Linked DNA regions of Homo sapiens: regions 1, 2, 4, 5, 6 and 7 are each linked to region 3. The links come from fine-mapping of genetic effects on gene expression. A gene starts in region 3. Each other region holds a variant in brackets. All regions are shown on one strand. Distances are from middle to middle. Region 1 has its middle 27 kb from the start of ZNF117. Region 2 overlaps LOC105375330 (a long non-coding RNA gene). Region 3 holds the start of ZNF117 (zinc finger protein 117). Region 4 holds the start of LOC124901661 (a long non-coding RNA gene). Region 5 overlaps LOC105375330 (a long non-coding RNA gene). Region 6 has its middle 40 kb from the start of ZNF273. Region 7 has its middle 49 kb from the start of ZNF138.

The links. PIP is the estimated chance that this variant, and not a neighbour inherited with it, causes the effect.
Region 1: its variant is fine-mapped to the expression of ZNF117 in whole blood (INTERVAL, PIP above 0.99).
Region 2: its variant is fine-mapped to the expression of ZNF117 in whole blood (TOPMed, PIP above 0.99).
Region 4: its variant is fine-mapped to the expression of ZNF117 in whole blood (TOPMed, PIP above 0.99).
Region 5: its variant is fine-mapped to the expression of ZNF117 in whole blood (TOPMed, PIP above 0.99). The same link has a PIP of 0.9 or more in blood mononuclear cells and lymphoblastoid cells.
Region 6: its variant is fine-mapped to the expression of ZNF117 in tibial nerve (GTEx, PIP above 0.99). The same link has a PIP of 0.9 or more in prefrontal cortex and thyroid.
Region 7: its variant is fine-mapped to the expression of ZNF117 in whole blood (INTERVAL, PIP above 0.99).

What each region holds. Positions count from the first base shown.
Region 1 is chr7:64,961,991-64,966,058 of GRCh38, reverse strand. No RefSeq gene overlaps it. Among named protein-coding and RNA genes, the nearest start is that of ZNF117, 27 kb to the left of the region's middle. The variant TA/A (reference allele first, on the strand shown) is at 1,894.
Region 2 is chr7:65,014,838-65,018,905 of GRCh38, reverse strand. All of the region lies in intron 3 of LOC105375330 (a long non-coding RNA gene), which reads left to right. Among named protein-coding and RNA genes, the nearest start is that of ERV3-1-ZNF117, 10 kb to the right of the region's middle. The variant T/A (reference allele first, on the strand shown) is at 2,504.
Region 3 is chr7:64,989,032-64,993,099 of GRCh38, reverse strand. ZNF117 (zinc finger protein 117) reads left to right here and starts at 2,064. Exons shown (of 4, transcript NM_015852.5): 1 at 2,064-3,153. All of the region lies in intron 1 of ERV3-1-ZNF117 (ERV3-1-ZNF117 readthrough), which reads left to right. It overlaps ERV3-1 (endogenous retrovirus group 3 member 1, envelope), which reads left to right. Exons shown (of 2, transcript NM_001007253.4): 2 at 1-2,744. The coding sequence starts at 74. The coding sequence ends at 1,888.
Region 4 is chr7:65,248,996-65,253,063 of GRCh38, reverse strand. LOC124901661 (a long non-coding RNA gene) reads left to right here and starts at 648. Exons shown (of 2, transcript XR_007060366.1): 1 at 648-761. RefSeq lists an enhancer at 2,210-2,803. The variant A/C (reference allele first, on the strand shown) is at 1,712.
Region 5 is chr7:65,020,730-65,024,797 of GRCh38, reverse strand. The region is part of intron 3 of LOC105375330 (a long non-coding RNA gene); the gene reads left to right. It also overlaps the pseudogene RNU6-1229P. Among named protein-coding and RNA genes, the nearest start is that of ERV3-1-ZNF117, 16 kb to the right of the region's middle. The variant T/C (reference allele first, on the strand shown) is at 1,786.
Region 6 is chr7:64,860,864-64,864,931 of GRCh38, reverse strand. It overlaps the pseudogene EEF1DP4. Among named protein-coding and RNA genes, the nearest start is that of ZNF273, 40 kb to the left of the region's middle. The variant C/T (reference allele first, on the strand shown) is at 1,570.
Region 7 is chr7:64,743,138-64,747,205 of GRCh38, reverse strand. No RefSeq gene overlaps it. Among named protein-coding and RNA genes, the nearest start is that of ZNF138, 49 kb to the left of the region's middle. The variant G/A (reference allele first, on the strand shown) is at 1,802.

The DNA of each region.
Region 1 (4,068 bases), 27 kb after region 3:
GAAACATGCAAAAAGTTGCCCAACATCTCAAGCCATTAAAGAGATTAAATCAAAATGACAATGTGATACCATCTCACACCAGTTAAAATGGCTGTTATTAAAAAGTAAAAAAAAAAATAGCATGTTGTGGAGAATAGGGAATGTTTACACAGTCTTTGTGAGAATGCAAATTAATTCAGCCTTTTGTTGATTAATTCAGCCTCTTGTTGGAGCCTCTACTTCAACAAAAGATGCCATGAATTTCAAGTTATTATGCTGACACATATATTGTCTCTAGAAGGGTTCTGGTTTTTTTGCAATCAAGGTGTAGCATTTCTGGCTTCCCTTGTGCTGCTTTGTTTGTGTGAAATAGGAAGGTAGGAAGTAAAACCAAGTAAACCATGACATTTCTATTTTCTACAGCCACAGCATCTGAATTCTAGTGTTATGTCAACTAGAAATAATGTCAGTATTTCAAAACTGACAAAAAGAAATTGATACTTTATCTTTTTAAATGTTTTTATAGATTATAAAAATTTATAGTTTCTGAATTATATAAGTTAAACAACCTGAACATGCAGATACCTAAAAGTTTTACCTAGATAATAGTATTAATATTTTAATAGGTTATGATTGTGAGTCACAGTTGCCCCATTGAGTTTACTGGAAAGCGGTTATTTATCTTCTGAGTGTATGTAGAGAATAGGCTTTCATAATCCTAAACAAAGAGATCTTTTAAGATTAGCACTATATTTAGATTTGAATAAAATTCATAGGCTTGTAGTAACAGAAATTTTAATATATTTTCTAATAGAAAAAAGTCAATCGAAATAAGTTATTCAGATGAGTTTTAAAAAACTTCACGTGTTCATTAAATAACATTTAAAATTACATTGTAAGTGACTGATTTGTAATTCCAATCTATTTCATTTTAGTCACTGAGAAAACAATATCCTTAAATTATTCAATCAGAAAAAGTATTCTTATATTAGTGTTTCTGAAACTTTCAGAAACTGTAGACCACTCAGTGGATGGGGAGGCATATGCAGACCACAAATTTTCTATGTAATAATAGGTTCATCTTAGCTTTAATATAAAAATTAAATATATTTCAAAAGTAAAATTAGTGGCTTTTTTAAGTCATGAGAGACATATTATTGTTAGAACCCATTTGCCAAATTATTTGTGTTAGGCTTAGTAATAAGTGCTTTCAACCAAAAATCAAGTTCTACATACTATCTCAGGGTAAAAAGAAAGTGGTTTTTATCTTATTTATTTTTACCAATAAAATATTTTTATTTTTAAACTGTTATTTTAGATTTAGAGGGGGTACACCTAGCCTTTCTAGACTTCCTTAGTAATTGGTAAATTTCTCTTTTTATTTTGTCATTATTACTTTTTCTGCACTCAGGCTGGAGTGCAATGGCGCAAACATTGCTCATTGCAGCCTTGAACTTCTGGGCTTAACATATTCTCCCTCCTCAGCCTCCCGAATAGCTGAGACCACAAGCACAAGCCTGTGTGCCCAGCCCATTATTATTACTTTTAATGTCTGCTAGTTCCTGGGGTGCACAGAGATTTAAAGGTCACATTCTTCCAGGGTTTGGGCATAACATGAGCACTGGAATTAAATAGGTAGGTCCCACAGGGAAGGCAGTGCCCAGGAGAATAGAATCTAGGTGTGGGTGTGACCACTCTCCTTCTCAACTTGGCTCTTTCTTCTTGTTTGAAGAGACAGAGTAATACTGGGAGGCAAAAAAGGACCATTGGCTTGGGGTCAGAGGGTGTGATTTGAGGTCTGGAGTTGATCTCTTAAAGGCTATGTGAAGTTGGCACTGTCTCCAACCTTTCTCCTGCAAAATGAGAAAACAAGGCTGGATGAACTGAGTTCGCTTTCAGTCTTTTTTTTTTTTT[TA/A]AGTTTTTTATTTCCATAAATTTTGTTTAACAGGTGGTATTTGGTTACATGAGTAAATTCTTTAGTGGTGATTTCTGAGATTTTGGTGCACCCATCACCTGAGTAGTATACACTGAACCCAATTTGTAGTCTTTTACCTGATGCCTTTACATCCTTATAGTTTAGCTCCCAATTATGAGTGAGAACATACAATGTTTGATTTTCCATTTCTGAGTAGTATTCAATTATATATATACATACATATATATATATATACACATACATATATATATATATATATGTATATATATCCACAGTTTCTTTATCCACTTGTTGATTGATGGGCATTTGAGTTGTTTCCACATTTTTGCAATTCCAAATTATGCTGCTATAAACATGCGTGTGCAAGTTTTTTTTTTTTTTTTTAAATAATAACTTCTTTTCCTCTGGGTAGATACCCAATAGTAGGACTGCTGGATCAAATGGTAGTTCTCCCTTTAGTTCTTTAAGGAATCTCCACACTGTTTTCCATAGTGGTTGTACTAGTTTACATTCCCACTAGCAGTGTAGAAGTGTTTCCTTTTCACTCCATCCACACCAACATTTATTATTTTTTTATTTTTTTATTATGGCCATTCTTACAGGAGCAAGGTGGTATCACGTTATGGTTTTGATTTGCATTTCCCTGATCATTAGTGATGTTGAGCATTTTTTCATGTGTTTCCTGGCCATTTTTATATCTTCTTTTGAGAATTGTCTATTTATGTCCTTAGCCCACTTTTTGACGAGATTTTTTTTTTCTGGCTAATTTGTTTCAGTTTGTTGCAGATTCTGGACATTAGTCCTGTGTCAGATATATAAATTGTGAAGATTTTCTCCCGCTCTGTGGGTTGTTGTTTACTTTGCTCACTTCCTTTGGCCATGCAAAAGCTCTTTAGTTTAATTAAGTCCCAGCTATTTATCTGTGTCTTCATTGCATTTGCTTTGGGGTTCTCGGTCATGAAATCCTTGACTAAGCCAATGTTTAGAAGGGTTCTTCTGATGTTATCTTCTAGAATTTTTATAGTTTCAGGTCTTAGATTTAAGTCCTTGATCCATCTTGAGTTGATTTTTGTATAAGGTGAGAGATGAGATCAAGTTTCATTCTTCTACATGTGGCTTGCCAAGTATCCCAGCACCATTTGTTGAATAGGGTGTCCTTTACCCACTTTATGTTTTGGTTTGCTTTGTCAAAGATCAGTTGGGTGTAACTATTTGTGTTTATTTCTGGGTTCTCCATTCTGTTCTGTTTGTCTATGTCCCTATTTTTATACCGGTACCATGCTGTTTTGGTGAGTGTGGCCTTATTGTGTTGTTTGAAGTTGGGTAATACGAAGCCTTTTGATTTGTTTCTTTTGCTTAGTCTTGCTTTGGCTATGCAAGCTTTTTTTTTGGTTCCATATGAATTTTAGGATTGTTTTTTCATAGTTATTTGAAGAATAATGTCAGTACTCTGATGGGAATTGTATTGAATTTGTAGATTGCTTTTGGCAGTATGGTCATTTTTAGAGTATTGATTCTACCCATCTATGAGCATGGGATGTGTTTTTATTTGTGTCATCTATTGCTTTCAGCAGCATTTTGTAGTTTTTCTTGTAGAGGTCTTTCACTTCCTTGGTTAGGTATATTCCTAAGTATTTTATTTTTTGTGCAGCTATTGTAGAAGGGGTTGAGTTCTTAATTTGATTCTCAGCGTGGTCGCTTTTGGTATATAGCAAAGCTACTAATATGTGCACATGGATTTTGTATTCTGAAACTTTGCTTAATTTATTTATTGGTTCTAGGAGCTTTTTGAAGGAGGCTTTAGTGTTTTCTGGGTATACAATTATATCATAAGGAAACAATTAGTTTCAGCTCCTCTTTAGTGATTTGGATGCCCTTTATTTCTTTCTCTTGTCTGATCATTCTGGCTAGGATGTCCAGTACTATGTTGAATAGAAGTGGTGAGAGTAAGCATTTTTGTCTTGTTCCAGTTCTCAGAGGAAATGCTTTCAACTTTTCCCCATTTAGTATTATGTTGGCAGTAGGTTTGTCATAGATGCCTTTTATTATATTAAGGTATGTCCTTGGTAGGCCAGTTTTGCTGATGGTTTAAATCATAAAGTGATGCTGGATTTTGTCAAATGCTTTTCTCCATCTATTGAAATACTTATGTA
Region 2 (4,068 bases), 26 kb before region 3:
CGGATACCCAGAGAAGAGCGAAAGTAAGACTTTTAACGATGGTCTTGCAGGATCGGGTGTCTGATAGGCAGGCACACTCAGAACAGTTTCAACAAGCAATTTATCCTCTTGTGTGCAGGTCCCTCCCATTTCCTTATACATAGGCTGAGTACTATGGGGTCACAATCTTCCTGGATGTCACCTATTGGTTGTTGGGTAGGAGCTTTAGGTGGTTTTTTTTGTTTGTTTTTTTAAGATGGAGTCTTGCTCTGTCATACAGGTGGGAGTGCAGTGGCGCAATCTCGGCTCACTGCAACCTCCGCCTCCCAGGTTTATGCCATTCTCCTGCCTCAGCCTCCTGAGTAGCTTGTATTACATGTGTCCGCCACCACGCCCAGCTATTTTTTTGTGTGTGTTTTTAGTAGATACGGGGTTTCACCGTGTTAGCCAGGATGGTCTTGATCTCCTGACCTCATGATCCACCCACCTCGGCCCCCCATAGTGCTGGGATTGCAGGTGTGAGTCACCATGCCGAGCCGTGTATACCCTGTTTCTTCTGTAGTTTGCTGACCTAATCTGATTTAAGGCACTTTGTCTTGGAAATGGACCACTGTATACATTATTTCCTTTACCCAGATAACTTTAAATTTTTTTTGTAGAGATGGGGGTCTCACTCTGATGCCCAGGGTTGTCTTGAACTCTTGGCCTCAAGTGATCCTCCTGCCTCAGCTTCCCAAAGTGCTTGGATTACAGGCAGGAACCACATGTTCAGCCATCTTTTTTTAAAAAAGAGAGTTTAAAGGACTCCAACTAGGAACTAATGCAGTAATCTGGGCCAGATATGATTCTAGCTGGGTTGAAATAATGACCAAGATAAAAAGGAGGAAGACGGGAAAGGCTGGGAGGGGCACAACCAACGGGACTTGTAAGTAAGCAGATCTGGTGACAAAAGTCAGGGAAAACAAAAGAAGACTCCCAGGTCTCCAGGTGACAAGGCCAGACCTGGTATATGGTAGTGCCATATACCGTATATACCATATATACTGCCATATACCAGACGGAGAGGGGAGTGCACACCACCACACAGCTGGCCCACACACTCTGGCTGCAAAAGGCCAGGAATCGCATGCTCTCCAGCTTGCGGCCTGAATTTGGACAACTCACTCACTCTCACTGCCTGTCTTCACAATTTCAAAATGAAGTTAAAAAAAAAACCCTTCTCTAACTTGTTTTGCTTTTTTCTGAGACGGAGTCTCGCTCTATCACCTAGGCTGGAGTACAGTGGTGCGATCTCGGCTAACTGCAACCTCTGACCCCAGGGTTCCGGCGATTTTCCTGCCTCAGCCTCCAGAGTATCTGGGATTACAGGCCTGCCACCATGCCCGGCTAATTTTTTTGTATTTTTTTTAGTAAAGATGGGGTTTCGCCATGTTGGCCAGGTTGGTCTCTGACTGCTGACCTCAGATGATCCACCCTCAGCCTCCCAAAGTGTTAGGATTGCAGGTGTGAGCCACTGTGCCCGGCCGGCCTCCAGCTTGTTTTAAGAATCCAGTAACATCACTATGTTTAACAATTGGCTTAGATATTCAGAAGCTGCTGATGTGAATGTTTAATGAATTCTATGAGTAAAGAAATTAGATCAAAGTAAGTGGATTCCATGTAGCCGAGAATGATGTCTTCTGGATATTCCACCTGGTAACCCCTCCTTCAGCGCACTATGCCCCTTGACAAACACCATGGGGAGCAGGGACAGAGGAGGTGGGTGGGGAGCACAGGGACACAGGCACTGACATCCGCCTCTGCATTGCCCCCGTCCCGTTCATCCCTTTCTATAATACAATCATTTAACAATTGTTTCCCATGTGTAAAATATTTGCTTCATTCAATCACAGAACAGATACTTGATGTTCAAATTTACTGAGGAAGAAACTGTTCACTTGCCAAATAGGAACTTAAAAAAATCAACAACCCTTAATTAGCTGTATCATTGAAGTAAAACCAATGTGAGGGATTTAGTGTTTAGTCAGGCAAGCCTGGTTGGCTTCTTGGCTTCCTGTCTTCCCCATTTGTTCCTCCTTCTCAAAGTGTGGATTTCATTTTCAAACTGGGGAAAAGAGGGGTTCAAGGTGGGAGGCGGAGGCAGGAGGATGGCTTTAGATCAGGAGTTCAAGACCAGCCTGGTCAATATAGTGAGACCTTGTCTCCAGAAATTTTTTTTTTTTTTTTTTTACTTAGCTGGGTGTGGCTGTATGCCTGTGGTCCCAGCTTCTCAGGAGGGTGAGGCAGGAGGATCACTTTAGCCCAGGAATTTGAAGCTGCAGTGAGCTGTAATCATGCCACTGCACTCCAGCCTGCGTGACAGAGCAAGACCCTGTCTAAAAACAACAACAAAAAAGGGCCAGACTCAGTGGCTCACACCTGTAATCCCAGCACTTTGGGAGGCTGAGGCAGGAGGATCTCTTGAGGCCAGGAATTCGAGACCAGCCTGGGCAACATAGTGATACCCTGTCTCTATATTTTTTTT[T/A]AAAAAAAGAGGTGTTTGGGAACTTCCAGTATGTAGACGTCCACTGCTGAAGGGCTGTTTTGTGTCATAACCAAGACACATGGCCTGAGAGCCTGTGATGATTATTTGTGTTTGTGCAAACTCCAGAGCAGCCCAAGCTCCTAGACTAAGAGACACTCCACCCTGTTTGTAACAGTCTTGAGCAGACATATGAGGAGACAGAGGTCATTGTCTCCAGCATCAAAGGAATGAAACAAGATGTTGATTTTAGAGCCAACACTTTCCCAAGAAGCCTCCACAGTGTGACCTCACAGGGCCTCTACCGGCACTGAGTGTCAGAATTAAGGCATCTGAGGCTGGGCCACATTCTAGTAGAGGCCCCACTCAAAACGTGGCCTGGGGTGATCAAAAGATGTTGATGTGGCAGCTCCTCACCAGATGTCCTGCTCCAACTCTTGCCCTTCCATGTCCAGTCTCTTGACAAGAGCTGAAATGTTCTTTTTAGTGTTTTTGTTTTGTTTTTTCTTTGAGATGGAGTCTTGCTCTGTTGCCCAGGCTGGAGTGCAGTGGCATGATCTCTGCTCACTGCAACCTCTGCCTCCCGGGTTCAAGCAATTCTTGTGCCTCAGCCTCCTGAGTAGCTGGGATTACAGGTGCCTGCCACCATGCCCGGCTAATTTTTGTATTTTTTAGTAGAGACAGGGTTTCACCATGTTGGCCAGGCTGGTCTTGAACTCCTGACCTCAGGTAATCCACCCACTTCAGCCTTTCAAAGTGCTGGGATTACAGGTGTGAGCCACCGCGCCTGGCCTTTTTTTTGTTTTTGTTTATTTCAGAGATAAGGTCTAACTCTGTTGCTCAGGCTGGAGTACAGTGGGGCAATCATGGCTCACTGCAGCCTCTATCTCCTGGGCTCAAGTGATCCTCCCACCTCAGCCTCTGGAGGAGCTGGGACTACAGGCATGTGCCACCACATCTGGTTAATTTTTTTTTCAAGATGGAGTTTCACTCTTGTTGTCTAGGCTGGAGTGCAATGGCCTGATATCAGCTCACTGCAAACTCTGCCTCCCGGGTTCAAGTGATTCTTGTGCCTCGGCCTCCTGAGTAGCTGGGATTACAGGTGCCTGCCACCATGCCCAGCTAATTTTTGTATTTTTAGTAGAGATGACGTTTCACCATGCTGGCCAGGCTGGTCTCGAACTCCTGACCTCAGGTGATCTGCCCCCCTCAGCCTCCCAAAGTGCTGGGAATACAGACATGAGCCACTGCACCTGGCACACCTGGTTTATTTTTTAAAAGTTATTTTTGGCCAGGTGAGGTGGCTCATGCCTGTAATCCCAGCACTTTGGGAGGCCAAGACAGGTGGATCAGATGAGGTCGGGAGTTCCAGACCAGCCTGACCAACATGGAGAAACCCCATCTCTACTAAAAATACAAAATTAGCCAGGTGTGGTGGTGCATGCCTGTAGTACCAGCTATTTGGGAGGCTGAGGCAGGAGAATTGCTTGAACCTGGGAGGCAGAGGTTGGTGAACTGAGATCATGCCACTGCACTCCAGCCTGGGCAACGAGAGCGAAATTCTATCT
Region 3 (4,068 bases):
CATATTAATTACTTTGCTATTAAGCTGTCACTTTGCTTAGCCTTCTCCCCCCAGGAAAAAGCCTTTTCTGTCCATGCTGGGTATGAACATGCTACTCATCACTTTGTTCTTGCTACTCCCCTTATCCATGTTAAAAGGAGAACCCTGGGAGGGATGCCTCCACTGCACCCACACTACGTGGTCGGGGAACATCATGACTAAAACCCTGTTGTATCACACTTATTATGAGTGTGCTGGGACCTGCCTAGGAACTTGTACTCACAACCAGACAACCTACTCAGTCTGTGACCCAGGAAGGGGCCAGCCTTATGTGTGTTATGACCCTAAGTCTTCACCTGGGACCTGGTTTGAAATTCATGTCGGGTCAAAGGAAGGGGATCTTCTAAACCAAACCAAGGTATTTCCCTCTGGCAAGGATGTCGTATCCTTATACTTTGATGTTTGCCAGATAGTATCCATGGGCTCACTCTTTCCCGTAATCTTCAGTTCCATGGAGTACTATAGTAGCTGCCATAAAAATAGGTATGCACACCCTGCTTGTTCCACCGATTCCCCAGTAACAACTTGCTGGGACTGCACAACGTGGTCCACTAACCAACAATCACTAGGGCCAATTATGCTTACCAAAATACCATTAGAACCAGATTGTAAAACAAGCACTTGCAATTCTGTAAATCTTACCATCTTAGAGCCAGATCAGCCCATATGGACAACAGGTTTAAAAGCACCGCTAGGGGCACGAGTCAGCGGTGAAGAAATTGGCCCAGGAGCCTATGTCTATCTATATATCATAAAGAAAACTCGGACCCGCTCAACCCAACAGTTCCGAGTTTTTGAGTCATTCTATGAGCATGTTAACCAGAAATTGCCTGAGCCCCCTCCCTTGGCCAGTAATTTATTCGCCCAACTGGCTGAAAACATAGCCAGCAGCCTGCACGTTGCTTCATGTTATGTCTGTGGGGGAATGAACATGGGAGACCAATGGCCATGGGAAGCAAGGGAACTAATGCCCCAAGATAATTTCACACTAACCGCCTCTTCCCTCGAACCTGCACCATCAAGTCAGAGCATCTGGTTCTTAAAAACCTCCATTATTGGAAAATTCTGTATTGCTCGCTGGGGAAAGGCCTTTACAGACCCAGTAGGAGAGTTAACTTGCCTAGGACAACAATATTACAACGAGACACTAGGAAAGACTTTATGGAGGGGCAAAAGCAATAATTCTGAATCACCACACCCAAGCCCATTCTCTCGTTTCCCATCTTTAAACCATTCTTGGTACCAACTTGAAGCTCCAAATACCTGGCAGGCACCCTCTGGCCTCTACTGGATCTGTGGGCCACAAGCATATCGACAACTGCCAGCTAAATGGTCAGGGGCCTGTGTACTGGGGACAATTAGGCCGTCCTTCTTCCTAATGCCCCTAAAACAGGGAGAAGCCTTAGGATACCCCATCTATGATGAAACTAAAAGGAAAAGCAAAAGAGGCATAACTATAGGAGATTGGAAGGACAATGAATGGCCTCCTGAAAGAATAATTCAATATTATGGCCCAGCCACCTGGGCAGAAGATGGAATGTGGGGATACCGCACCCCAGTTTACATGCTTAACCGCATTATAAGATTGCAGGCAGTACTAGAAATCATTACCAATGAAACTGCAGGGGCCTTGAATCTGCTTGCCCAGCAAGCCACAAAAATGAGAAATGTCATTTATCAAAATAGACTGGCCTTAGACTACCTCCTAGCCCAGGAAGAGGGAGTATGCGGAAAGTTCAACCTTACTAACTGCTGCCTGGAACTTGATGACGAAGGAAAGGTCATCAAAGAAATAACTGCTAAAATCCAAAAGTTAGCTCACATCCCAGTTCAGACTTGGAAAGGATAGTCTCCAGATTCCCTTTTCAGAGGTTGGTTCTCATCCCTTGGAGGATTTAAAACCTTAGTACAAATAGTCCTAGCCATATTGGGAGTTTGCCTTATACTCCCTTGTCTCTTACCCCTCATTGTCAAAAATATCCAAACAGCCATAGAGGCTCTTGTGGACAGACGGACTACCACACGACTAATGGCCCTAACTAAGTATTAACCCCTGCCAAGAAAAGAGCTACTTCCTCTTGAAGTAAATGAAGATAGTGATGCTTTCTCTTAAACTTTACTTATAAAAAGCATCAAAGGGGGGAATGAAGCAGGAAATATAAAAGGAAAAACAAGTAAAGGGAAAACAAGTCCTTTCCTGACCAGTCTGACTCACTCCAAAGTCCTGCTGGAGCTATGATAATTATCTGCAAGGCCAGGCAGGGGCTCCGAAGGAGTGGGCTCCAGGAGCAGGGATGAGAAAAACAAGTTCTCCTTATCAGTTTCCCTGTTTGAAATTCTCTCCCCATAACATTATTCTTTGTTCTGCTCTCACAACTATTTTTGTAACTATTTCTGCAAGTCTGTAAAGATTTTGTAAGTTCTTGTTTTTCTTTCTGTAGCATGGCAAGGTCACAAGACATGTTTAAGTAAGGTAGGCTCATGTTGCAAATCCTGTTGTAAAACCTGTCACGGTATGATTAACTGCCTTTGTTCTGCTTCTGTAAGACTGCTTTCTCACCTCGCAGGTTTTGCGCCAAAAACCCGACTTGCCCCTGCCTGATGCATGTATAAAAGTCAAGCCCTGTCTTTGTTCAGGGCTCAGCCTTTGGATGTTAATCCGCTGGGCCAGTGGCCACCTAAATAAAACCTTCCTGTTGCACCCAGTGATCTCTCCGGCCTCCTGATTCCCACAACATATAAGCATTCCTTTTTCTCTGCAACCTAGCCCGCATCTGTCATTGACTTTTTAACAATAGGCATTCTGACTGGATGAGATGGTATCTCACTGTGGTTTTTCTCTGCATTTTTCTAATAATTAACAACGTGAATTTTGTTTTCATATGCTTGTCAGCCACATGTATGTCTTCTTTTGAAAAGTATCTGTTCATGTTTTTGCTTACTTTTTAATTAGGTTTTTGGTTTTCTTTTTGTTGTTGTTGTTGTTTTCTGAGATGGAGTCTTGCTGTGTCACCAGGATGGAGTGCAGTGGCATGATCTCGACTCACTGCAACCTCCACCTCCCAGGTTCAGATGATTCTTCTGCTTCAGTCTCCTGAGTAGCTGGGATCACAGGTGCGTGACACAAAACCCAGCTAATTTTTGTATTTTTATTAGAGATGGGGTTTCACCATGTTGGCCAGGATGGTCTGGATCTCTTGACCTCATGATCCATCTGCCTCAGCTTCCCAAAGTGCTGGGATTACAAGCATGAGCCACAGATCCTGGCTTATTCTTCTTCTTCTTTTTTTTTAAAATAAATTTGTTTAAGTTTCTTATGGATGCTAGATTTTAGACCTTTGTCAGAAGCATAGTTTGCAAATATTTTCTTCTAGTCTGTAGGTTGTCTGTTTATTCAGTTGATTGTTTCCATTGCTGCAAAATAGCTCTTTAGTTTAATTAGGTCCCATTTGTCAATTTTTGCTTCTGTTGCAATTGCTTTTGGTATCTTCATCATAAAATCTTTGCCAGTTTTTATGTCTTAGAATTTTCTAGGTTATTTTCTAGATTATTTTCAGGTTTTATATATATATATATATATATATATATATATATATATATATATATATATATATATAATTTTAAGTTCTACATTTAAGTCTTTAATTCATCTTGAATTGATTTTTATATATCATGTAAGAAAGGCATCCAGTTTCAATCTTCTGCATAGTGCTAGCTAGTTATTCCAACCTCATTTATTAAATAGGGAATTCTTCCTGCATTGCTCTTGTAAGCTTTGTTGAAGATCAGATGGTTGCAGGTGTGTGGCATTGTGGCATTATTTATTGGCTATCTATTCTGTTTCTTGTTCTATGAGTCGTTTATATATATGTGTGTGTGTGTGTATATGTGTATATATGTGTGTGTGTGTGTGTATACATTGCCTTGGGTATTCGGGCTCTTTGTTAGTTCTATATGAATTTTAAAATAGTTGTTTTTAGTTCTGTTAAGAATGTTTTTGGTAGTTTGATAGGAATTACATTAGATCTG
Region 4 (4,068 bases), 260 kb before region 3:
AATTTTTGTATTTTTAGTACAGACAGGTTTTCGCCATGTTGCCCAGGCTGGTCTCGAACTCCTGACCTCAAGTGATCCGCCCGCCTCCCAAAGTGCTGGGATTACAGGCGTGAGCCACCGCGCCCGGCTTTATTATCTGTTTTTAAACTCTCAACCTAAACAACAAACAGAGAAAGGCTCTCTCAAAGAAAAGATGTTTATTTGGGAGTAGGGCATTGCAACGGGAATACATGAGATTCACCACTACCTACCGCCCAGGACTGCCGCGCAGCTCAAATAAATTTTTGAAAAGCACCTCTGCACTCCAGACTGGGCGACAGAGCGAGACTCTGTCTCTGTCTCAGAAAAAAAAGAAAAGACAAAGACAAAAAAGAAAACCGCCTCAAAAAATTTTTAAAAAGTGCCTCTCGAGGCCTTGTGCACACGGAGTGACATGACCTGCTGAGGTCAAGGCAAGCTTTCCACCCTCCGTGGCTGGGAAATCTCCTGCCTAGCTTCACGATGAATCAAGGCCAGGGCGCCTCCCACCTCTCGGGAGGAAACCTGACGCCTGACCGCTTAATGGGTGTGTCCACAAGTTGCCACCTAAGGAGGAGGGGAGGGGGAAGCTACGCAGCCTTGATAGCAGCCGGGAACCCTGAGTCCCGGACCCGCACAGCGCAGAGGACCCCAGCAGCGCACTTGTCCCTTTCGCCCTGGCCTTGCCGCGGCGGCGGGGAGAAGAGGGTGGGACGGTCTGACCTCCGCAGCCAATGAAAGCAGTGAGTTCCTGGTCCGATCCCCAGCGCGACTCCTCAGTGGTCACCTCCCGGGCAACGGGCCACGGACCCTCGGCACCCCGAGACAATTGTCAGGCGGAGGGTGAGCCCCGGTTCCTGGGCGGCGGGTGCGGATTGGGATGGGCGCGGAGCCAGGTGGCGTGAGCCTGCAGCCCTCCGTGCTCGGAGTGCGCGCGCCACAGTGGAGCCCGCCGCGTCGCTGACCGGGTGCGCGCTGCTCTTCCTGCTCTGGGTGCGCGGGAAGGGGCTGGGTGTCCGCGCGCCCCTTCCTCCTGCCGCTCTTGGTACCTTCCACATCTACCAACGCCTGTGCGCCGGGTGGTGTGGAAGCGCAGCATCGCCGGTGGGACAGCCAGAAACAGAAGAGCACGCCTGGCGTGGCAGGGGCCCAGAGCCACGGGAACACGGGTGACAGGGACAGCGGGACTTAAGGCAGCAAGGGAGGTGCGGTGCAGGAGGGAGTCAGGACTTCATGGAGAGCTGGCATTGGAGGGCGATTGGAACCAAATAAATTAAAAAAAAAAAAAAAGGTGCGGGGGGAACAGAACAGGCAAAGGCAACAGAGGAGCACAACATTGCCCCGATGTTAGCTGTGTGCAGGGCATGTGCGGGTACCTGGGGCGGATATAAAGAATGCTAAGATAGGCCGGGTGCAGTGGCTCACGCCTGTAATCCCAGCACTTTGGGAGGCCGAGGCGGGCAGATCACGAGGTCAGGAGTTCGAGAGCAGCCTGGCCAACATGGTGAAACCCCGTCTCTACTAAAAATACAAAAATTAGCTGGGAGTGGTAGCGGGCGCCTGTAATCTCAGCTACTCGGTAGGCTGAGGCAGGAGAATCGCTTGAACCCGGGAGGCAGAGGTTGCAGTGAGCCGAGATCACGCCATTGCACTCCAGCCTGTGCGACAGAGCGAGACTCCTTCTCAAAAAAAA[A/C]CACAAAAAACAAAAACAAGAATCTTAACAGAAAGGTGCCCAACAGTCAGGTAACTCACCAGGCCCCAGCGTCTCAGAAGGAGGAAAGGCTTCCGGGAGGCGGAACTGGGCCTAGCGATTGGGAAATGGAGGAAATGATTGGGCGAAGGTGTGTGGGTGGAAGGAATGGTATGAGCAAAGGCCGGGAAAGGAGAAAGCGTAGGGCAGGAGGAGGAGAAGATTCGAAAGCCAGCTTGGAGCTAGGTTGGAGAGGGGCCTTGCTGCCAGGTTTGAGTTTTGAGCAAGGTGCTTCTGTCGGGTTTAGAGGAGAGGACTAAAGTTAAAAGGTGGAACTCAGCCCAGGATCCGGAGGGAAGAGCCTCACCGTCTCTGGTGATGGAGGGTTCACTCCTTGACAGGTGCAGTTGTTCCATGTCCCAGCTGGAGCCTATTCTGCGTCCAGGGCTGGCCTGGTTTTGGGTCCTGGGCTGTTTCTTGGCTCCCGCTGCCCCTCCTTCTGTTCCTTTCTTGCTGGCATCAGGTTGCAGAGAGCTTCTGTTTCCTGCTGCCACCCTTCCATAGGCATAGCAGCCTCTGTATTCTGTGAGCTCCGCTTCGGGTGCTGCAGCAAGAGCCTGAACATGGATGGGGAGAGCCGCTTCTATGAGGGATGAGACCTCGGATCTGGTTGGGGGAAGGCAGAGTCTCGAAGCGCTTTGCCTGCTGCCCTTGGTTCTGCCGGTCACAGTCTTAGCCCCAGTGCCCTGCCTACCCTTTCTCCTCAATTGCATCCTCTTTCCCAGCTATTTCCACGAGTTTAGATTCTCCATTTTTCTTCCTGTCTCCTCCATCAGAGTATGAGCTCTTGGAAATCAGGGACACTTATCTGACTCACCTCTGGCCAATGAGGCCTGGCTCCAAGCAGCCTAGTCAGCACTTCTTAACCTCAACTAAACTGCAGGGTTCACTGTGGGCAGGAAGACAAGAGTCCCAGCTGGACTAGCCACTGCCCTGGACCTGCCATGAGCCATTGATGTCCATTATTTCTAATGCTCACAGCAACCCTGGTAGGTCTTGTGCCGGTTTTACAAATGGGGAAAATTGAGTTTCTGGCTGTGAGTCGTGTGTCCAGGATGGCCTAGCTAGTCAATGGGGCTGGAATCCAGATTACCCTGATTTCAGAGCCAAAATTCTTGACGATTTTTTCCCATCCATTCCCTTCCCTCCTGTAGTTCTGGTCCTGTTGCCTCATCCCTGGCCTGTTGTAATAGCTGTCTGACCAGTTGCCCTTTTTCCAGGTACCTCTCACCTCTCTTTGACCTACACATAGTCCCAAGAGTGGGCTTTCATGGCATTGGCTCCCTGCCTAAAATCTTGGCTGGCTCTAGTCAGGATCCAATCCACCCAGTGCCTCAGGCTTTCTGACTTCTGCATTCACTTCATGTGACTCTCCAGCTTAAATACAGTGCCCCAACTCAGTCCCTCCCACCTCTGGGGTTGTATCAAGTCCTGGGACTGCAGAGATGGGAAGGGAGGCATGTTTGGCCATGGAATTCGACCACTTGTTCCTTCACCCCTTACTCACAAGAATCCCTTCATCAACACCTGCCCCCTCTCAGCTCCCTGGCCTCTTATAGTAGGAAAGCCCTTTTCCATGTGGAGCTGTTTGCCTGGCCAGCTCCAGTGCAATTTTCTCTAGGAGGCCTGACCAGTATTTGACCAGACTTTTGGTTGCAAGTAAAAGAAGCTAAAATCATACTTGCTTGAGCAAGAAGGGATTTTAAAGTCCAGGAGTAAAACTGGATCAGGCATGGCTGGATCCAGGATCCTTCTCTTCCCCATTTCCATCTTTTCATACATCTGCCATTTCTTGTCTCTGCTTTTCTCTAGGTTGACTTCATTCTTTGCAGCCTGTCTTCCTGTAGAGGCCCCAGAAGTTTCCTGGCTTACAGTCAACCAGCTTAGCAACTCCCACAAAGGCAGAGTGCCTTTCCTAGAACCAGTCTTGTTGGCTTGATTTGGGTCATAGGCCTGTCTCTAAACCTGTCTCTGTGGCCAGGAGGATAAAATCATCCTTTAGTCATGTGCCTTCTGGGGCACAGTGAGTAGAATTAGCCTTACCTGAGCCAAAGGAAGACAGGGATTGTTAGAAGTAGATGAAGAGGGGCTGGGCACAGTGGCTCATACCTGTAATCCCAGCACTTTGGGAGGCTGAGGCGGGCAAATCACTTGAGGTCAGGAGCTCAAGACCAGTGTGGCCAACATGGAGAAACCCTGTCTCTACTAAAAATACAAAAATTCACCAGGCGTGGTGGCAAACACCTGTAATCCCAGATACTCGGGAAGCTGAGGAAAGAGAACCTCTTGAACCTGGAAGG
Region 5 (4,068 bases), 32 kb before region 3:
TTCTTTTTCTTTTCTTTTCTTTTTTTTTTTTTTTTTTTTTGAGACAGAGTCTCTTGCTCTGTCGCACAGGCTGGAGTGCAGTGACATGATCTCAGCTCACTGCAACCTCTACCTCCCAGGCTCAAGCAATTCTCCTGACTCAGCCTCCTGAGAAGCTGGGATTGCAGGTGCACACCACTATGCCTGACTAATTTTTTGTATTTTTATTAGAGACCAGGTTTTGCCATGTTGGCCAGGCTGGTCTCGAACTCCTGACCTTGAGTGATCTGTCCCACTTGGCCTCCCAAAGTGCTGGGATTACAGGCATGAGCCACCATGCCTGGCCAATTTTCATAATTTTCTTTACTTCCCACTGTGGTGGGAGAACTGGCTTCAGAGAAAGCCATCCTGGACAGGTAAGGTGGCCCCCCAAGGAACAGGTTTCAATCAAATGTTTTGTAGGCAGTGATGCCCGTGCACCCTGGTGAGAAGGAGCATGGTGTGAACATCAGGAACCAGACTTCACCCTGGAGGAAAGGCCACAGGTGGGGGCTGAAGGAGCAGTTCTTACAAGCGATCCTGTGGGCACTGGGGCCACACCACGCACCTTGGTGCACAAGTGTCAGTGTGGCTCAGAGTGGGGTAGAGGACTCAGGGTATTAAAAGCATCAAGGAATCCAGGGAGAGCCACTGCACCCAACTTTACTTTCACCCACAGGCTTTCATCATGTTGGCCAGACTGGTCTCCAACTTCTGACCTCAAGTGATCCACCTGCCTTGGTCTCCTAAAGTGCTGATTACAGGTGTAAGCCACCATGCCTGGCCAAGATTAGGTCCAATTTTTAAAGTAATCTGGAGCATAGAAAATGTTTCTGCAATTATTAATCTTTTTTTTTTTTTTGAGACAGGGTCTCACTCTGTCACCCAAGCTGGACTGCAGTGTCATGATCATGGCTCACTATAGCCTCACCCTCTTGGGCTTACGCGATCTTCCTGCCTCAGCCTTCCAAGAGCTGGGACTACATGCATGCACCATCGTGCCCAGCTAATTTTTTAGTTCTTATACAGACAGGGGTCTCACTATGTTGCCCAGACTGGTTTTGAACTCTTGGGCTCAAGAGATCCTCCCACCTTGGCTTCCTCAAATGCTGGGATTACAGGCATGAGCCACCACACCTGGCCTCACATATTTTGATATATAAAACACCAAAGATCTTTTTAAGGAGCTAAAGAAACCAGTACTTTTTAAAGAAAAAAGTAGTGGGAATGTCTAGTACAACCAAAACCAGGCATCAAAGTCAGCAGTTAAACATTCCAGGCTGGGCACAGTGGCTCATGCCTGTAATCTCAACACTTTGGGAGGCCCATGCAGGAGGACTGCTTGAGCCCTGGGGGGCAGAGGTTGCAGTGAGCCACGATAATACCACAGTATTCCAGCCTGGAAGACACAGTGAAACCCTGTCTCAAAAACAGATAAACAAACAAATCAATCAATCAATCCAGAACCAGTGCTCACTTCGGCAGCACATATACAAAAATTGGCATGACATGGAGAAGATAAGCATAGTCCCTGTGAAAGGATGACAAACAAATTCATGAAGCATTCCATATTTTAAAAAATATTTCAGAACCAAGAAAATAAATGAATCAAAAGAAAGGGAAGACCTTGGTGATTCCTTTGATATCAGAAAAAATCGGCCGGGCACAGTGGCTCATGCCTGTAATCCCAGCACTTTGGGAGACCAAGGTGGGCAGATCATTTGAGGTCAGGAGTTGGAGACCAGCCTGACCAACATGGTGAAACTC[T/C]GTATCTACTAAAAGTCCAAAAATTAGGCCAGGTGCCGTGGCTCATGCCTGTAATCCTAGCACTTTGGGAGGCCAAGGCGGGCGGATCACTTGAGATCAGGAGTTTGAGACCAGCCTGGCCAACATGGTGAAACCTTGTCTTTAATAAAAATACAAAAATTAGCCGGGTGTGGTGGTGGGCACTTGTAATCCCAGCTACTCAGGAGTCAGAGGCAGGGAGAATCACTTGAACCCAGGAGGTAGAGGTTGCAGTGAGCTGAGATCGCACCATTGCACTCCAGCTGGGGTGACAGGGCAAGACTCCATCTCAAAAAATAAATAAATAAATAAATAAATAAACTACAAAAATTAGCTGGGCATGGTGGCACATGCCTGTAATCCCAGTTACATGGGAGGCTGAAGCAGGAGAATCTCTTGAACCCGGGAGGCGGAGGTTGCAGTGAGCTGAGATCACACCACTGCACTCCAGCCTGTGTGACAGAGCAAGACTCTGTCTAAAAAATTAAATAAATAAATAAAATAAAATAAAATAAAGTTCTCATCTGCAATTCTGAATTTGGCAAGAAGAGTGAACTGTGGCCCAGTGACCGGCACACAGCATTTTAGAGTTCATGGTGTAATCCTTGGGAAACTCTTTTCGCCAAAGTTGTGGCATCTTCTCTGGCCACTCACTTTATTCAAAAGACCTGGCTCAAAATGACTATTTATGGAAATCAACTCTAGCCTCAAAAGACAAAACCACTGTAGTTCTAAAGATATTCAAAAGAATTAAGGTTATTAAAAAGCAATGAAGGGCCAGGCACAATGTCTCATGCCTGTAATCCCAGCACTTTGGGAGGCTGCAGCAGAAGGATCACTTGAGGCCAGGAGTTTGAGACCAGCCTGGGCAACATAGTGAGACCCTGTCTCAACAAAATAATTTTAAAAATTAGCTGGTTGGCCGGGTGTGGTGGCTCACGCCTGTAATCCCAGCACTTTGGGAGGCCGAGGCGGGCGGATCACAAGGTCAGCAGATCGAGACCATCCTGGCTAACATGGTGAAACCCTGTCTCTACTAAAAATACAAAAAATTAGCTGGGCATGGTGGCGGGTGCCTGTAGTCCCAGCTACTCAGGAGGCTGAGACAGGAAAATGGCGTGAACCTGGGAGGCGGAGCTTGCAGTGAGGCAGTGAGCCGAGATCACGCCACTGCACTCCAGCCTGGTCGACAGAGCGAGACTCGGTCTCAAAAAAAAAAAAAAATAGCTCGGCATGGTGGTGTGAGCCTGTTGTCCCAGCTACTCCAGAGGCTGGGATGGGAGCATCACTTGAGGCCAAGAATTGGAGGTTGCAGTGAGCCAGGATTGCACCACTGCTCTCCAGCCTGGGTGACAGAGAGATTTTGTCTCTAAAAATGAAATAAAGGAAGCAAGGAAGGGATTCTCCTCCAAATACTCCCACTTCATTTGGGGCAATTACAAGATTCCAGGAAACATGGAAAACCTATCCTGATTACCTTTTTGGATATATGCTAATGGGAAAACAAATCTCATTAATTAACTCACAGAACAGCTAAGAGAAAAGGATCTTAGGGGACGTGTGGTTTCACTCCTAAGTTTAAACATGAGGAAATGGGTACCAAAGAGATGAAAATAACTCACCAGGTAGAGAGAGAAGAGCCTCTCTTACTACAAGGGGTCTCTCACTGAAAAACCAGCGAAACTCGTTCCTTGCCTGCATTCTCCAAGATCATAGCCCAACATAGAATAGAAATGTCTCCACTTCAGAGGACAACCGGTTTGTCCTTTGCCTTTTACACCCCTTTCAGCAAGGAGTATTTCTCAACTTTGTATTTGTGCAAACCCTTGAGCAGCACAAACTTCTTAGCTAAGAGACACTCCACTCTGTTTGCAATTGAGGGCAAAGGCTGGGATGCTTGGGCACAGCTCCAAGGTCCTTTCCCAGAAGTCTGGGGTGCCTGAAAAAAAAAAGCATTTATTTTTCACACACTGAAGAGACTTGGCTCATCAAGTAGAGGTAAACTTTCTCTGTCTCTCTCTCACTATATATATATTTAAAAAAATTTTTTTTTTTGAGATGGAGTTTCACTCTTGTTGCCCAGGCTGGAGTGCAATGGAGCTATCTTGGCTCACTGCAACCTCCCATTTCCCGGGTTCAAGTGATTCTCCTGCCTCAGCCTTCCAAGTAGCTGGGATTACAGGTGTCCACCACCACGCCCAGCTAATTTTTGTATTTTTATTTATTTATTTTACTGACTTATTTTTATTTTAATTTTTTTCGAGA
Region 6 (4,068 bases), 130 kb after region 3:
TGCAGCCCGTTTTAAGTAATTTATTTTTTTATTTTAAGGAATTAATTTTGTTATTTTTCTCTTTTTGGAACACTGCACATTTGAATTCAAGCACTTATATCTGGTTTTCACTTGATTTTAGCCAAAAGGCTGAGAAGTAATTATGTCTGCTTTTCAATTTTAGAAACTTATGAGTCACCAACTCTGAATACTGACTTTGATTTTGAAAATATATTCTATAAAAATAATCAGACTTGTTTTACTCCATCTCATGCTCCCTGTCATACATGTATATTTTAGATTTTGTTAATATAACTTTTCTCCTTTTGTCTTTACAGTAATTAATTACTGCTTAGTGTTCTAGTTCACTAATCTTCTCATCATTTCAGACTAATTTAATGTTTCACACATATGTTGTATATTAAGTAGACTGATTATATTTTCAATTGTTTACTTCACATTTGGCTGTTTTTTCTTTTCTTTTCTTTTTTTTTTTTTTTTTGCCGGTCTCAGTTTTTAATCATGGCGGGGCCTCAAGCACATGCACGCGTGCACACACACACACACACTCACACTCAGTCTTCAGATCTTGTTGAAAGCTGCAATGTCAACATTCTGCACGTGTTCTTCAAACTTGATGATCTCCTCCTCCAGCAAGTCTGTCCCCACCTTGTCATCCTCCACTACACACTGAACCAGCAGCTTCTGGATACTATAGCCCACGGGCACCAGCTTAGAGGCCCCCCCAGACCAGCCTGTCCAGCTGGATGGAGCACATACAGGCCTCCAGCTGGGCCATGTTAGTCTCATCATCCCAAGGCTTAATGTCCAGCAGGATGGACGACTCGGCCACCAGCATGGGCTTCTTGGCCTTTTTCTCTGTGTACTGCCGCAGCCGCTCCTCCCGCAGCAGTACTGCCTCCTGTCCTCCTCCTCATTGTCACTGCCAAACAGGTCAATGCCAAGACCAGCTTGGTTGGGGAGACCCTAACCCAGTGGCGCTAGAGGAATTAAAGACACACACACAGAAATATAGTGTGTGGAGTGGGAAATCAGGGGACTCACAGCCTTCAGAGCTGTGAACCTCAAACAGAGTTTTGCCCACATATTTATTGACAGCAAGCCAGTGATAAGCATTGTTTCTATAGATCATAGATTAACTAAAACAGGAAACAAAGCGATGGGCTGAAACAAAGGGATGGGCTCTGGCTAGTTATCTGCAGCAGGAACATGTCCTTAAGGCACAGGTCGCTCATGTTATTGTTTGTAGTTCAGGAACACCTTTAAGTGGATTTCCCACCCTGGGTGGGCCAGGTGTTTCTTGTCCTCATTCCGGTAAACCCACAACTGTCAGCATGGCTGTCATGCCCATCACTAACATGTCACAGTAGTGCAGAGATTTTGTTTATGGCCAGTTTTGGGGCCAATTTATGGCCAGATTTGGGGGCCTATCCCCTGTAGGTCAATGTCATCGTCCTTGTCATCCTCTGCTGGTTTGGCTGGCTTCTTGGCCAGGGGCTCCACTTGGCACATAGGAGACTCGTGCTGGGTCTGCAGGGCTGTGGTGGCCAGGCAAGCTCTTCTCCAGCA[C/T]GTTCAGTGGGGCCTCCAGCTTGGAGATGGCCTGCTGCAGCTCCTGCACAACCCTGCGCAGGCTCTGGTTCTCCACTTCCAGACTGGTGATCTGAAAGATGAGCTCAGCCTTGTCTCCGCTGGGGCTGCTGGAGGCCCCGGGGCCTGAGCTTCTGGCCAGGGATTTCTGGAAATGCTCTCTGGCTCTCGCAATGTCATGGAGGATCATGCTGGCGCCGTTCTCCTGGCGGGAGGTGCTGGCCACAGCCTTGTTCATCTGCTTGAAGAATCTCCTTTCTGCATTGTCACATTTTAACTTGTTGAACCAGATCTTCTCATGTACTAGGAAGTTTGTAGCCACTTTTCTGATGCCAGCCAAGGACGCAGTGACCAGGAAGGAGGAATCAGCAGATGCGGGACGCCTGAGGAAAGGCTGGCTGTTTTTCAAATATGGCTTGTTGCTGGGTGTGGTGGCTCACACCTGTAATCCTAGCACTTTGGGAGGCCGAGGCGGGTGGATCACCCGAGGTCGGGAGTTGGAGACCAGCCTGACCAACATGGAGAAACCCCGTCTCTACTAAAAATACAAAATTAGCTGGGCATGGTGGTGGGTGCCTGTATTCCCAGCTACTTGGGAGGCTGAGTCAGGAGAATCACTTGAACCCAGGAGGCAGAGGTTGTGGTGAGCCAAGGTCATGCCATTGCACTCCAGCCTGGGCGACAAGAGTGAAACTCTGTCTCAAAAAACAAAAAAACAAAACAAAACAAAAAAACCCCCACATGCACAAAAAACAAACAAATATGACTTGTCACCCTTGTAGCTTCTTGTACTTTTCACATTATTGGTATATTTTCTGTTTTCCCCATTGTGTTGGATTAAACATTTTAAACCTAAGTCCTGTAACTGTGGGTAATATAAGTTGTAATTTGTTTCTCGCTTGTGAAAGATATTACGTTTGCAATGTCTGCAGTTAGTTTATGTTGTTACTTTTATTTTTATTTTTGTAGAAAAGGATTTTTATTTTTTTTTAGGGTGATTTTTAAAAGTTCTAGGGTACATGTGCACAATGTGCCGATTTGTTACATATGTATACATGTGCCATGTTGGCGTGCTGCACCCATTAACTCGTCATTTACATTAGGTATTTCTCCTAATGCTATCCCTCCTCCCTTATGTTGTTATTTTTTCATTTGTCTAATGGCAAGTTGGACAACCCACAGAAATTTTTTATTTGTGTGTTCACCCATATCTAAGAAGAACAATTGCTTCTTAGTTTAATTACATTCTGGATTCTTCCTTTGGCTTTCTTTTGTACCTGGAAAGTTCTCATATGTTTCTTTATATTCTACTCAGGATTTTAAAGGTTCTTGTAACTTTCTCAGAATTTTAGCATGTAAATTATTTTTATATTTAAAGATTTCCAAATATATAATATCTTTCCAAAATGCACAAATATCAACAGCATATACCTGAGGAAAATATTTTACAATTTTCTTGTGTGGCAGACAATAACATCTTATGAGAAATCTCAAGTTACATCAGTTAGAACATATTCTTTCCTCAATATACCAAAAAAAATTTTTTTTTTTTTGAGATGGAGTCTCACTCTGTCACCCAGGCTGGAGTGCAGTGGAGCGATCTCGGCTCACTGCAAGCTCTGGCTCCCGGGTTCACGCCATTCTCCTGCCTCAGTTTCCCAAGTAGCTGGGACTACAGGCGCCCGCCACCACACCCGGCTAATTTTTTTTTTTTTTTTTTTTTAGTAGAGATGGGGTTTCACCATGTTAGCCAGGATGGTCTTGATCTCCTGACCTCATGATCCTCCCGCCTCGCCTCGCAAAGTGCTGGGATTACAGGCAGAGCCAGCACGCCTGGCCAGTATACCTTAATTTTTAATACTAAAAAATCGATTTTATATTTTTACAAATATCTGAAGTAAATGTACTTAACTGTAGAGACTAATACCTACATATGGCCAGAATACTGTTTTTCTGTATCAGTAAGACAATGGCAAAATTACTGATCTAAATTCAAGTTTTTGGCTTTGATCACCATGCTTCTCCATTAGCACATTTCTTTTGTTTCTTCTTCCTCTTCTTTTTTTTTGAGACAGAGTTTCGCTCTTGTTGCCCAGGCTGGAGAGCAATGATGTGATCTCAGCTCACCACAACCCCTGCCTCCCAAGTTCAAGCGATTCTCCTGCCTCTGCCTCCCGAGTAGCTGAGATTACAGGCATGCGCCACCACGCCCTGCTAATTTTGTATTTTTAGTAGAGATGGGATTTCTCTATGTTGGTCAGGCTGGTCTGGAACTCCTTACCTCAGGTGATCCACCCACCTCGGCCTCCCAAAGTGCTGGGATTATAGGCATGACCCACTGCACCCAGCCAGCACTGTTCTGAATCAATAAAAATGATCTCAGCTTAAATCTTCCATTTGATTAAGAACTTAATTTAAAATTTTTATTTTTGAGGCACCGTCTAAACTTCTGGGCTCAAGTAATTTTTCTGCATTGGCCTC
Region 7 (4,068 bases), 250 kb after region 3:
AAAATAATTATTCTTGCTGCACTGTATACCAATAATTAGGCCAAGTATAATAAAGCAAACCAGTCCTACCACAATTTATCTTTTAGTAAAACTGAGAAACTGGAGAGAAAGAAGTTATGTTTCAAAAACAATAGTACACCTGTGATTAAATTCTAGTCTTACCTGATGTTTTTCAAATTTTATTGTTTTCTACAGTTTGGATTAAATTCTAATTTTTCTGGCTACAAGTCTCCAAAATAATGTTTTTAACTTTTTGCTTTATATTGTTCTGTTTCCCCATTTTTCCTAATAAGAAATCACTAAAACCCAAGCTGTGCTTTCTTAAAGCCCTGTGAACTAAAGACTAGATGACTTAAACTTCAGAAGAGCAGCAACCTATTTATGCGTGCTTCTGTTGCATACTATTATGTTTCAGAAGGTGCTGCCTCTAAGCCCCCAAAACAGAGAGTGCTATAGGAAACAAATTGACCTCTTCCACTCCAGCGCTGCATTCAGTGCCCCATAACAATGACCCCCTCTCTGCAGGAAGTATCCAGAAGGATTATGACCCCCTCATCTCCCTCCAATTCTTGTGATAAATAAATACACAAGCAAGACAGAAATCATGCATGAATTGACAGTAGGGATTGTGGCAGTCCAGCTCTTACTAATAGAGGCCTCCAAAACAACTGTTTCAGTACTGACTGAGTGGTTCAGTTAAATATTAAAAAATAGTGCCCTGGCTGGGCATGGTGGCTCACACCTGTAATCCCAGCACTTCGGGAGACTGAGGCAGGTGGATCACCTGAGGTTGGGAGTTCGAGACCAGCCTCACCATCATGCAGAAACCCCATCTCTACTAAAAATACAAAATTAGCCAGGCGTGGTGGTGCATGCCTGTAGTCCCAGCTACTCGGGAGGCTGAGGCAGGAGAATCGCTTGATCCTGGGAGGCAGAGGTTGCAGTGAGCAGAGATCATACCATTGCACTCCAGCCTGGGCAACAAGAGTGAACCTCAGCACCCCCACACCCCCCCCCCCACAAAAAAAAACCAGTGCCCTTATACAAAGGCTGGAATGTAACAAAAGCCCACGAAGAGTTTTCCCTAGGCCTTTCCTGGGCCTTACAGCATGACAAAATAATGAAGGAATTCTTAACAGGACCTATGTAGAATTAAATGAGCTTTTTTGTGGGTCTGAAGAAACCCCCAGGCCTCCACAAACAAGTTTACTGGGGGTCTGAAGGAACTACCCTAACCTCCGTGATTCAGCAGGAGACAAGATAAGGGTAATCACCTCAGCACCTGGACCCATTTAGATTAAGTAAATTTACTGAGGTTCCAGAGGAAAGTCTTCAGGACTCAGACATTAGTTATATTAGTGTTAATTTTCCAATGCTTCTGTATTACAATAAATACTTGCTTTACTGAAAGTAGAAATAATCTAGAACAAAAAGTAACAACCATCTCTAAATTGTTAAATTTATGTGAATATTTTGGAGTTGATGTTTTGTGACCTCTTCCTTGACATCCTAGCAAAGATATTTCTGTAAAAGTATATTTCACAAATACACTTTCAAATACAAATTAGTACTATCCATGTTTTGGTTACTTTTGCTTTGCGCTTCCACCTCCATATTATTTTTGATAACAAAGCACAGCAACATGATTTTTCTTTTTTTTCTGAGATGGAGTCTCACCCTGTCGCCCAGACTGGAGTGCAGTGGTGCAATCTCAGCTCACTGCAACCTCTGCCTCCCAGGTTCAAACAATTCTCTTGCCTCAGCCTCCCAAGTAGCTGGGACTACAGGTGTCTGCCACCAC[G/A]CCTGGCTAATTTTTTATATTTTGATAGAGACAGGGTTTCATCATGTTGGCCAGGCTGGTCTTGAACTCCTGACCTTGTGATCCACCCACCTTAGCCTCCCAAAGTGCTGGAATTACAGGCGTGATCCACCGCAGCTGGCCTGCAACATGATTTTTCTAAAGCAGGCCTCATGAATTTCGCCTGGATGTTAACACATTAAAAGGAGGTGAATGCAATTAAAAGGTGTTTAATACATTCCACCAGAAAGGAGAGGCACAGCTGGCCATGCTGGGCCTCACAAAGGCTGTCTCATGCACAGATTGGAAAGCAGAGGTATCAGGGAACTGGGACTTTGTCTTTATGACCATGATGATTGTAAGCAACCAAGCAAGGCTGTCCCTTTGGACACAAAGTAAAATCTTGCATGTTGGGGTCTGTGGTTGGGAAGATGATAATATTTGCATGCTAATAAAAGCTGCCTGAAAAGGAACATGTAAACAACAGTGATTGCTTATCTGCCCCTGTGACTCAGCAGGCTTATGAAACAGTTATAAATAGCAGCTGTCAAATGGCCAACACAATCTAACAACATTTTCAATATAATTTATTACTAGTGGAAATCCTGAATTAATTTATTATTATTTTTGAGATAGAGTCTCGCTCTGTCACCCAGGCTGGAGTTCAGTGGCATGATCTCGGCTCTCTGCAACCTCCGCTTCCCGGGTTTAAGCAATTCTCCTCTCTCAGCCTCCTGAGGAGCTGGGACTACAGGCGCACACCACCACGCCCAGCTAATTTTTGTATTTTCAGTAGAGACAGGGTTTCACCATATTGGTCAGGCTAGTCTTGAACTCCTGACCTATGGTGATCCACCCACCTTGGCCTCCCAAAGTGCTAGGATTACAGGCATGAGCCACCACACCCGGCCCTGAATTCTTTAATTTCTGCAGTTTCCGTTACTTCTTAAGATGCTTTAAATGAATAAAATCTGCCTTAAATGTTGATACCTGATAACTTCTCTCTGGAGGATTTTGAATTGGCCAACTTAATCAAAACTCCAGCTCTTGCCATCTAAGTGCAATTAAATGGAATATTTAAGATTCCTAAGGGGTCAACTATTACACTTTCAACTTCTTTTTAACGATATATTATTTTCCAAAAATTCTTATGACCATTTGAATAGTTTAGCTTTTGCTCCTCTCTTGTGAGCAACAGGATTATATATATTTGGTAAAATGTAATACAGAAAACTTAAAAATTATACTGGACAACCATCAGTAAAATGTATATATCTGGTATAAACAACCTTTTTCCGCAAATTGAATTCTGCATTTTTCTCTTTTCTGATATATATGAGATGCACAAGTATGTTTTTCTCCTGTATGGGCATAAAGAGGTGATTGTCATTTGTATTATCTGCTAAAAGCTTGTGGCAGCTCATGGTATTATTGACCACATGTTCTAATGTCTTTTTGCAGATTTAAATATTATATTGTAGTGTCAATTTAACATTTAGATGTGGGTTAAATCTCTAGATATATTGTAATTAGATTGATTTTTTTTTTTTGAGACAGAGTCTCCCTCCATTGCCCAGGCTGGTGTGCAATGGGGTGATCTTGGCTCACTGCAACCTCCACCTCCAAAGTTCAAATGATTCTCCTGCCTCAGCCTCTCAAGTAGCTGCGATTACAGGCACCTGCCACCACACCCAGGTGTGTGTGTGTGTGTGTGTATTTTTAGTAGAGATGGGGTTTTGCCATGTTGGCCAGCCTGTTCTCAAACTCCTGACCTCAGGTGATCCACCCACCTTGGCCTTCCAAAGTGCTGGGATTATAGGTGTGAGCCACCATGCCTGGCGTAATTAAATTGATTTTTTTGTAATGGTGATTGTCCTGGTAAATCAATATAAAATAAAAATTATACACCTTTAAAAGATAGTTATTTACAATTGCTTAGAGTTTACCTGGTCAGCCGAGGCCTATCTTCTTCAAGACTTTGCTGAAATTGCACCTGCTCAGTTACAGTCTCTCTGTACAGTCAGAAAAATAATCCTGACTGAGAATGGCTAAGAAAAGAATGAAAAAATTTTGGCAGAGGAATCCTACATGTAAAGAAACAGTTGTGGAAAAGAAAATAATGTTCAGAGATGTGTTTTACTGCAGTTATTTTTTATTTTCATTTTATTTATTTATTTATTTTTTGAGACTGAGTCTTTCTCTGTCACTCAGGCTGGAGTGCAGTGGTGCTATCTTGGCTCACTGCAACCTCTACCTCCTGGGTTCAACCG